2 separate regions of the Homo sapiens genome follow, and region 1 is linked to region 2. The links come from fine-mapping of genetic effects on plasma protein levels. A gene starts in region 2. The other region holds a variant in brackets. All regions are shown on one strand. Distances are between the middles of the regions. Region 1 overlaps VWF (von Willebrand factor). Region 2 holds the start of VWF (von Willebrand factor).

Evidence for each region. PIP is the chance, under the fine-mapping model, that this variant and not a neighbour inherited with it causes the effect. The UK Biobank Pharma Proteomics Project read protein levels with antibody pairs (Olink). The fine-mapping took linkage between variants from a reference panel, not from the people measured, so its PIPs are less certain.
Region 1: its variant is fine-mapped to the plasma level of the VWF protein (UK Biobank, PIP above 0.99).

The regions. Positions count from the first base shown.
Region 1 is chr12:6,028,113-6,036,112 of GRCh38, reverse strand. VWF (von Willebrand factor) reads left to right here. Exons shown (of 52, transcript NM_000552.5): 20 at 1,287-1,425; 21 at 4,535-4,669; 22 at 6,625-6,771. Among named protein-coding and RNA genes, the nearest start is that of SNORA120, 8.1 kb to the left of the region's middle. The variant C/T (reference allele first, on the strand shown) is at 3,830.
Region 2 is chr12:6,123,337-6,125,702 of GRCh38, reverse strand. VWF (von Willebrand factor) reads left to right here and starts at 1,033. Exons shown (of 52, transcript NM_000552.5): 1 at 1,033-1,282.

The DNA of each region.
Region 1 (8,000 bases), 92 kb after region 2:
TTGGACTTTGAAATATTTGCATATACATAATGAGGTGTCTTAGGGATGGGACCTAAATCTAAACATGACATTTATTTATGGTTCATATATACCTTATACACGTTGCCTGAGGGTAAGTTTATACAACATTTTAAATATGTATTTAATGTGTATTTAGTATTTTTAATGTTTGTGCATGAAACAAAGTTTTGTGTACATTGAACCATCAGAAAGTAAAGGTGTCACCCTCTCAGCCACCCATGTGGTGTCATGTTGGTGCTCAAAGTTTTGGGTTTCAGAACATTTTGGACTTCAGAGTTTTGGATTAGGAATGCTCAGCTTGTATTTCTGTTCAGGGAGATGGGCCCCAGGGAAGACAGGGACCTCGCCCCACCAGTCATTGCATTTGGGCCAAGCTGCCAGTGGGCACGGGGTCTGGAGGGTCCTTTCGTTGCAGGCCTTACACTGCCCATGAGCACTTCGTGAGTGTGCTTGCAGTGGCGTGGTTTGAGGTGAGGGTGGCTGGTTGCCTTCTCCCTTTTCCTTGGCCATCCTGCACGTAACCCCTCACCCTGCTCATTCACCCTGCCTTTGACTTGGTGGCTGTGCACAGCCTTGGAAAGAGGCCTACTGGACAGAGGTAGAGAGGGCTGTCTCTTGGGCTTGAGGTCTGAGCTTACCACCTCTGACGCACAAGTGGGCTTCTTGATGTCAGCTCTGGTTACGGGTGGTGGCAGGGAGGGACACGTGGCAGTGGGCAGATCACTATAGATTTTAACATGTAGCTACATACATCTTAACGTGTAGCTATGCACACAGGACTGCTCCTGGCAGAAGTGCGTACTTCATCACTCTTTTCTATACTCTGGGCTTTCCCACTGTTCTGTCTTGTTTTTCCCATTAGCCTCAGGCTTTCAACATCAGTGTGTCTGTTTTACAGACACCCTGTGGCCAATCTCAGGTAGATGTGGCTTTCAGGGTGAGGCTGAGCGAATTCATAACAGGAGGCCTAAAGAGCATCCGGGCCTCCTCCCTGGCTGCCTGGCTCACTTTGGACAACCCCTTCCCTTCTTTGCCTCAGTTTCCCCCTTTTAGGGACAGCCACTAGGCTTCCCTGTCTCCTGCTGGGCACCATACTGGGCCTATGAAGTCCACACTCCACGCTACAGGTCCTCAACTTCCTTGGGCTTCCTGGAGGGTTGGGAGGCACCCAGAGTATTCTGTGTTCCTTCATTGCCTCCATGGCCCAGATGGGCCCCTCAAACCCAAGGTGCCCAACTTGTCATCTCTGCCATGACTGCTCCTAGTGTCTGTCAGGACCGGAAGTGGAACTGCACAGACCATGTGTGTGATGCCACGTGCTCCACGATCGGCATGGCCCACTACCTCACCTTCGACGGGCTCAAATACCTGTTCCCCGGGGAGTGCCAGTACGTTCTGGTGCAGGTGAGAGGTGGGGAGATGGGGAGAGGGTGCTGTTTCTTTCTAGGAGGGGTGGGAGGTGTGGCCTCAGGTTGGGTTCTGTGGATCTGTCTGCAGAAACAACTCTGGGGTCTGGTTTCTACTGGAGTACTTCCCAGTCCTTCACAGAAGTGCCTGAAGCGGTAGGGGATTTGAAGCTCAAAGTGGTTGTCCATTTTCCCTCTGCTCACCTGGGGACTTATAAAACGAGACAGAAGCTTGTTTGTTGTTGAGGATTGGTGTGGGAGAAAGGCTACTGCTAGTCCACATTAGCACAGATGTGGAATTAGAAAAAGTCATCTGTTCCTTCTGGTAGACACAGCCTCAGTCAGGGTGCATAGCTTAGGGAGTGGGTTGGGCTGGGAAGTCAGTCCCGCTCAGCCTCCCTTCCAGCACCCTGGGCAGTGCACAGTCTGCAGGTGTTGTGCAGTGGCCCTGGACAGGGGGATGGTTGAAATGACCCCTGGAGTTTGCTTCCCACGATATGGCTTTGTGGAATTCTCCGCCATTTTAATGTCTAACTTGGTACAATTCAGAATGGGAGGAGTGGGAGGATGGGACACAGGAAAGTCATCCTGCCCAGCAGATGAGAGCGATCCAGGAATCCTCACGGTGAGTGTGGGCAGCAGCCCCTCTGCCTCCCACTCCCCACTGCGTGGATTCTTGTAAGTTTCTCTTTCTGGTTGACATCAACTGTGTAAGCAAGGAAGTATGAGTGCTTTTCTCACCAGAGCTGAGGCACTGTACTCTGTGAAGCTTTGAACAAATATGGTCCCTCTGTCTCCATTCCCAGGAGGAGGAGGGGCGGGAGCTTGGTGTGGTCTGAATGGAAGACCACAAACCCATAGGAGCCCCAGCCCCAGAGGCTGAGTTGCAGGAGCTGGTGAGTCAGGCAGCGTGGGTGACTGTGGACCGACCACTCGTGTAGAGCATGCTGGGCATGGGGCGGAGCCAACAGCAGCCTCCTCAGTCCCCACCTCACACCCGGGCTGGCCCAGAGAGGCAGGCAGTGTGCTGGGGACACAGGGCATGCAGACCAGGCAGGGAACCTATGATCCGGGGGGATATGCGCCCCTTTAGAGCTTTCCCAGAGATTCTATATGGAAGTTTCCCAGCCTCAGCAGCAAAAGAGAGGGCGACACCAGCTTTGCAGAACAACTGCCCAGCCCATTTCAAATCTGAACATCCAGGAAAAAATTAATTCAGTGCAGCAAGGACCAGACAGCTGGTCAGCATCTGCTGCTCCCAGCCCTTCCCTGCCCAGGCCAGCTTTCCCAAGTGGACCAGTTTTAAAGACTCCCCCTCCAAACGGTGCCCCTTGTGTGTGGCTTGTTTTCCTTTCCTACAGCTGGTTCTGTTGTCTTCTGATGCATTGTCCTGGGGCCCCTCCCCTTTCTGCCATCCTCCTTTGGGGAGTATCATCAAGACCTAACTCCCTCTTTCAGAAATCTCAGCTGAAGATAAGGACAAATAAAACACCTACACCCTTGTTTCCTCTTTTAACCTTCGCCATGCATCGACCTAACACAAAGCCATTTAACCTGACAATTCCATTAAGTTGAATGGAATCTTAGAGGTCAGATTGTGTGTGTTGTATGGACATATGTATGCATGTATGTGTGCATGTGTGTATGCATGAGCATGTCTGTGTGGGTGTATGCATGTGCGTGTGTGTGGGTGTATGCATGTGCGTGTGTGTGACTGTGTATGAGTACATGGGTGTATGTGTGTGTATGCGTGAGCGCGTGTGTGTGTATGGCTACGTGTGTGTATGTATGTGTATGCGTGTGTGTGTGTATGAGTACATGGGTGTATGTGTGTGCATCTGTGTATGTGTGAGCACGTGTGTGAGTGTGTGTATGAGTACATAGATGTATGTATATGTGTGTTTGAGTGTATGCATGTGCCTGTGTGTATTTGGGTGTATGTGTGTGTGTGGGTGTGTGTGTCAGAAAGGTAAGTGGTTTGCTCAGTGTTACCAATAAGTGGCAGAATCAAGATTCACACCTTGTTTTTATTTTTTCTTTTTTTTTTTGAGACAGAGTCTCGCTCTGTCACCCAGGCTGGAGTGCAGTGGTGCGATCTCGGCTCACTGCAAGCTCCGCCTCCTCGATTCATGCCATTCTCCTGCCTCGGCCTCCCTAGTAGCTGGGACTACAGGCGCCCGCCACCACGCCCGGCTAATTTTTTGTATTTTAGTAGAGACGGGGTTTCACCGTGTTAACCAGGCTGGTCTCGATCTCCTGACCTCGTGATCCGCCCGCCTCAGCCTCCCAAAGTGCTGGGATTACAGGCGTGGGCCACCATGCCCGGCCTCTTTTTTCTTTTCTTTTCTTTTTTTTTTTTGAGATGGAGTCTCGCTCTGTCACCAGGCTGGAGTGCAGTGGTG[C/T]GATCTCGGCTCACTGCAGCCTCCGCCTCCCGGGTTCAAGCGACACACTCTGTTTTTCTAAGTTGAACATTTTATCTTTCTTTTTCATCACATCACAATAATAGCCACCATGGGGGAGGCATTTGCCAGGAATGTGTCCCCTTTTGCTTAATTTTCTATGCAATTGACCAACAAGGACCAGAGCTCCTTATCCTCTCTACTCATCTCGACTTGGTAGCTCAGGACCCATGGAGCTGTGTCAAACCATCTTTGGTTCCATTTCTGGGCCAGCAGTGCAGAGGGATTCAACCAGAATTCAGAGCCACAAAGTGCCCTGTGGTCAAACTGTCCCAGTTACCTGGGTGGGACTCTAGGCAAGGCTCCAGTGGGACTCTAATGGGCTCTAGGCAAGGCCTTTGAGCCTGATGCATCCATCGAAGCAGGCCACATGTCACCTTCCTTCCCTCCCCCTCCTTCCCCACCCCCACCCCACTCACTGCAGGCACCTGGCTCATCTGTCGTGGGCGAGGTTGACACACCTGAGGGCATTCACCTGGGCATATCCCCCGTCCCCCAGACACACACAGAGGCACATATGCGCAGCCATGGACGTGGCAAGATCCTGTGACACGTACTCAAAGGCCTGTGATGAAGAGATGCCAATCTTCTGGTCTGGTGAGAGCCAGTGGGGATAATGGTCTTCTCCTGGCACTCCTCTTTCCCCAGGATTACTGCGGCAGTAACCCTGGGACCTTTCGGATCCTAGTGGGGAATAAGGGATGCAGCCACCCCTCAGTGAAATGCAAGAAACGGGTCACCATCCTGGTGGAGGGAGGAGAGATTGAGCTGTTTGACGGGGAGGTAAGTGCAGCCTCATCTCCACCCTCATGTCCCGCTTTGTGCTTCTGCCACTTAATAGGAACATTTTCCAAGCATTCATTTAGAGCTCGTGTGAATGGAATAACGCACAGCCATTAAAGAGGATGAGGCAGAGCTATTGCAACTGACCGTGACGTATTATTTTATGAGAAGAACAAGTGGCAGAACAATAGGGATGACACAATCCCATTTTAGCGACAGTGCAGAGTGTGTGTGAAGGATGTGCACATGTGTCTGCACAAACGTGGGAAGAACCAGTGCTCACCTCTAGAGTAGGGTGGGGACTGGAGGGTAGCCGGGTTTCTTTGTGTGTGTGTGTGTGTATGAAGTGATGATGTTATGGGATATGTTTCATATGTTTTTCTGTTCTTTTCAGATAAATACTTTATTTTTTTGAGATGGAGTCTCGCTCTTTTGCCTAGGCTGGAGTGTAGTGGTGTGATCTCTCTGCTCACTGCAACCTCCACCTCTAGGGTTCAAACGATTCTCCTGCATCAGCCTCCTTAGTAGCTGGGACTACAGGTGTACACCACCGTGCCCGGCTAATTTCTTGTATTTTTAGTAGAGATAGGATTTCGCCATGTTGGCCAGGCTGGTCTCGAACTCCAGACCCCAGGTGATCTACCTGCCTTGGCCTCCCAAAGTGCTGAGATTACAGGCATGAGCCACCATGCCTGGCCAGAAAGGAGCTCAAAAGAGGAGTAAACTAATTCAGTCCCCTGTGTACTAAGAACTTAAAAAGTAGTTCTCATAAGTGTACACAAGACTCCCTTAGGAGATCTTGTTTAAAATGTGGCTCCTAGAACTCCATGCTGAGATTCTGACTCAGTAGGTCTGGGTGGGGCCCAGGAACCTGTGTTTAAAGTTGCAGGTCATCCCCAGGCCACAGTTTTGGATCCGCTGCTTTGACTATGTGGAGTGCTGTGGAGACCCAGGCTCTGGGCACAAACTTGTCCTGGTATCTTCATTTTCTCCCATGGCCTCAGCCTGCAGCTCTGCCTTCTTCCAAATACCCACCATTGACAGCAGGGGATGGGAGGTGAATTCTTCACCATTATGGAAGAAAACTGCTTAGCAAGCATAACGTATTAACTGTGAGTCAGCAGTGTCAACTGCATTTCAAAGAACAGCTCTATTTAGGGCAGAGTGGCGGTGATGATGCTGAACAGGAGGTGTGCAGACATGTGAGGGATAGATTTGCACATGTGATTAGCTCTGCACTGCATGTGATATGTTACTAATGAGAGGACCTCTGCAAAGGGATGATGGCAGTTCTCAGCCTCAGCCTCAGTCTGATGAATTGGAGAGTCCGCCACACATGCTGAAATGGTCCTCCAGGGTACAGCACTGGCAGGGATTGGGCTAAGTCAGAGGCTCAGGTCAGAGCCCTTCTTGAACCTGCAGTGTGTGATTCCCAGCACTAGCACTGAGCACCTCAGTTTCCTTTTTCTTCAGCTCTGTCTCCTGATGACAGTGGCTCTGGGGAGGGGGAGGTGGTGGGATACAAGAAAGGTGAGAGTCTACTGCTTATTTTTATAGAGGAATAGATTTTTAAACAATCAACTAGAGATGCTTAAAATCATTGCCATGTTGAAAACCTATCTAGGAGACCACTATATTTAATGACTAATTGTCAATAAAATACCTGCTCATTGGTTTCATAGTACTTTAATTTCATAATCATGATTTTGCTGCTACCTCTGTTACCGTCTCTTGGTCATGGATGCCTGGAGAGTGGTGGTGGTGAGATGGTCACAGACATGTCCTGGCGTGGGGCTGGCCCTGCAGGGGTGCAGTGGCAGGTGGGGTCCTGGAGGGGTGGCAGTGCCTGCACTCGTGGGCACTGAAGACAGATGGGCAGGTGTAGAGTGGAGGGAGGATCTGGCTGTCGAGCCTGCCCTTCATCCTCCTGGATTTCTTGCTTTGTCTTCCTCCAGGTGAATGTGAAGAGGCCCATGAAGGATGAGACTCACTTTGAGGTGGTGGAGTCTGGCCGGTACATCATTCTGCTGCTGGGCAAAGCCCTCTCCGTGGTCTGGGACCGCCACCTGAGCATCTCCGTGGTCCTGAAGCAGACATACCAGGTCAGTGGCTTTCTTGCTTCATCTTGTTGGGGACTTGGCCTTTGGAGTGTTTTCTGCTCCCTGATCGTAGGTCTCTAAGGACTTGCTTTATGAATCCAGGTGCTCCTGTGTTGGGTGCATATATATTTAGGATAGTTAGCTCTTCTTGTTGAATTGATCCCTTTACCATTATGTAATGGCCTTCTTTTGATCTTTGTTGGTTCAAAGACTGTTTTATCAGATACTAGGATTGCAACCCCTGCTTTTTTTTTTTTGCCTTCCATTTGCTTGGTAGACCTTCCTCCCTCCCTTTATTTTGAGCCTATGTATGTCTCTGCACGTGAGATGGGTCTCCTGAATACAGCACACTGATGGGTCTTGACTCTTTATCCAATTGGCCAGTCTGTGCCTTTTAATTGGGGCATTTAGCCCATTTACATTTAAGGTTAATATTGTCATGTGTGAATTTGATCCTGTCATTATGATGTTCGCTGGTTATTTTGCCCATTAATTGATACCGTTTCTTCGTAGCATCGATGGTCTTTACAATTTGGCATGTTTTTGCAGTGGCTGGTACTGGTTGTTTCTTTCCATGTTTAGTGCTTCCTTCAGGAGCTCTTGTAAGGCAGGCCTGGTGGTGACAAAATCTCTCAGCATTTGCTTGTCTGTAAAGGATTTTATTTCTCTTTCACTTATGAAGCTTAGTTTGGGTGGATATGAAATTCTAAGTTGAAAATTCTTTTCTTTAAGAATGTTGAATATTGGTCCCCCCCTCTCTTCTGGCTTGTAGGGTTTCTGCCAAGAGATCTGCTATTAGTCTGATGGGCTTCCCTTTGTGAGTAACTCGACATTTCTCTCTGGCTGCCCTTAACACTTTTTCCTTCATTTCAACCTGGTAAATCTGACAATTATGTGTCTTGGGGTTGCTCTTCTTGAGGAGTATCTTTGTGGTGTTCTCTGTATTTCTTGAATCTGAATGACAATATCAACTTTTCTTTAGGTTTCTTAACCTACAGCAGCAAACCAATCATGCACAATATTAGTATAACACTGCAGACTATTCTAGGGTGTTTCCTTATCATTGAGTCATGGGCCAGCATGTTTTGAGAGCTATTTGTAAAATTGCTAATAACCAACTTTTGAGAACGGTTCCACTATTTAGGGTCCAACAGTTTGTTGGAACTTGCATGATTTCTTTAAGTGGCATGTATGTGACAAGTGGCTCTGGCTACTCTAGCCACTGGTTTAGT
Region 2 (2,366 bases):
TTTTCTACTGTCTCATGCTGATTCTGCCTCTGGTGCCATTTTTCTTCCTTGGGAGTGTGCATCTTCCTCTCCTGGGGCGGTAAAGGGAGTAGCAGAGTGCGAGGTATGTGGGAAGGGAGGAGGTTGGAACCTAGTGGTTTCTCAAAGTCTTAGGGCAGGAGGTATCATGGAGAAGCAGTGAGGAGGTCTTCCATACCCAGACATGCCTCAGGGTGCTTGTCTCAGTGCCTGGAATCCCAGCACGAGAGTCATCTTCCCCCCACCGCTGCCCATTGCATCAGTTACTTATTTTAGTAGGAATTAGTTTAGCAGATGGTGTTGAGAATTAGGCTTTTGGGAATGGGAGGCTGGGAAGAAGAATTGTGTGTGTGTGTGTGTGTGTGTGTGTGTGTGTGTGTGTGTAAGATCAGGGTACCAGAAGTGGGTGGAAATGTCCTTGAGAATTAGAATTATTAGAATGTAGCAACAGTAGAAGTATTAGACTCAAACCATCACTCCCCACCTTCACCATTTTACAAAGGCTTAGGCTTGTGGCCAAGACCTTCATCTTTAGCCGATCCATTCAACCCTGGCCAGGATCCAAATGGACTGTTTTTGTCAGGGCCAGGACCGGATCCTTCATACCTGGGGTGCATAGGAAGTGTTAGTACTCCCCTTCCTCCAAACACAGCAGCAAAATTGGCTCAGGTTGAGGTGTTTTTCTCAACTTCCCTGGAGTCCAGCCCTGGAAGCTGGATCAGGAAGCTGTGTTGTTCTACTGTGATTCCCCCTGGCCTGTATCAGCTTGCCCTGAAACAACCAGCATTCCTGGTTATCCCACACAGGTGGGGCACTCTAGGAAGACCAGGGATCAAGTGTGGGGGTGTAGGGATAGGGGGTGTTTGGGGAGGGCAAGGCAGTTAATTAAGGCAGCTGCCAGGAGGTCTCCCTCCAAACTCTACAAAGCTTTATCAGCTTGGAGGTACTTCTAATACCATTTCCTTTCATTGTTTCCTTTTGGTAATTAAAAGGAGGCCAATCCCCTGTTGTGGCAGCTCACAGCTATTGTGGTGGGAAAGGGAGGGTGGTTGGTGGATGTCACAGCTTGGGCTTTATCTCCCCCAGCAGTGGGGACTCCACAGCCCCTGGGCTACATAACAGCAAGACAGTCCGGAGCTGTAGCAGACCTGATTGAGCCTTTGCAGCAGCTGAGAGCATGGCCTAGGGTGGGCGGCACCATTGTCCAGCAGCTGAGTTTCCCAGGGACCTTGGAGATAGCCGCAGCCCTCATTTGCAGGGGAAGGTATGGCCTTTGGAAGGAGAGCTGGCTCAGTTGTGGGAGGAAGATGCAGGACTGACTGATCCCTGCTCCTGGGGAGCTGGAGTTCTCTGTCGCTGGACTAGAAGGGCTTTGTTTGGAGGGGCAATTCAATTCAGCCAGGGATGATCCTAATACTCCCTCCTCCACTTGCCTCTGAGGGTCCTGGGGCTGCTTTTCTTCATGCAGTGGGTTTTACTGTTTGATAGTACTTCACTCAAATGAGTTGGAATGAAGTTTGCCCTCACCTCTGAGAACCTGGGAGCAGCTGAATGTACCTGCGTGTTAGGACTGGGAGGGGACACCTGCTTGGAGACCGAGACCTGGCAGTATCTGACATCTCAGTGTTCCTTCCACAGATGTATCACAGATTGGCTTGATTTCACCTTTGGCTGGATGGGACCTTAGGTAGGAAGGGAGTCACCCCCAGTGAATCTCAGGCAGCAGATTCTGCACTTCATTTAACAACTTTTCCCGAGGAGAGGGGCTACAGCAGGGGCTCTAAGTGACTTGGGGTACGCTCTGCCAGCCAGGATGAATTGTCCCTCTCTTGGGGGTCACACAGTGGGGAAGTCTGCCTGCATCCAGGGCCGCTGGACTCCTGTCCATTTTTTCAGATGAACTCAGCAAACATTTGCTGGGCATCTCCTGGGTGCTAAGCATCTTGCCAGGTGCTGGGGTTGGAGGCAAGGGAGACAGCCTTTGCTCTTGTGAAGGCACTTGTGGTACAGAGTCAGGGGCCAACAAGCAAACCGTCAAGTTGGTGGTTCCTGAGCATTCTCTATGTCTGGGCTGCTGTGGTGGGCACACAAGTGTAAGACGGTTCCTACTCGCCAGTTTGGATGCAGAGGCAGGAAGGAATGAGGTGTGTGTTAGCTCCCAGCTGCTTCAGGAGGCAGGGATGTGAGGCCCAGCGGGCCTGGAGGGAAGGCAGCGTTTTCCTCCTGTCTTGGGCCTGGGACTGCTGTCTGTGGAAAGGTGCCCACAGGTCCCAGCTCACAGCGATTGTTACCCTTGGGCCTGGCACTGGCCAGGGGTTTTTTCGGGGGCCAGAAGTCCATGTTCAAAG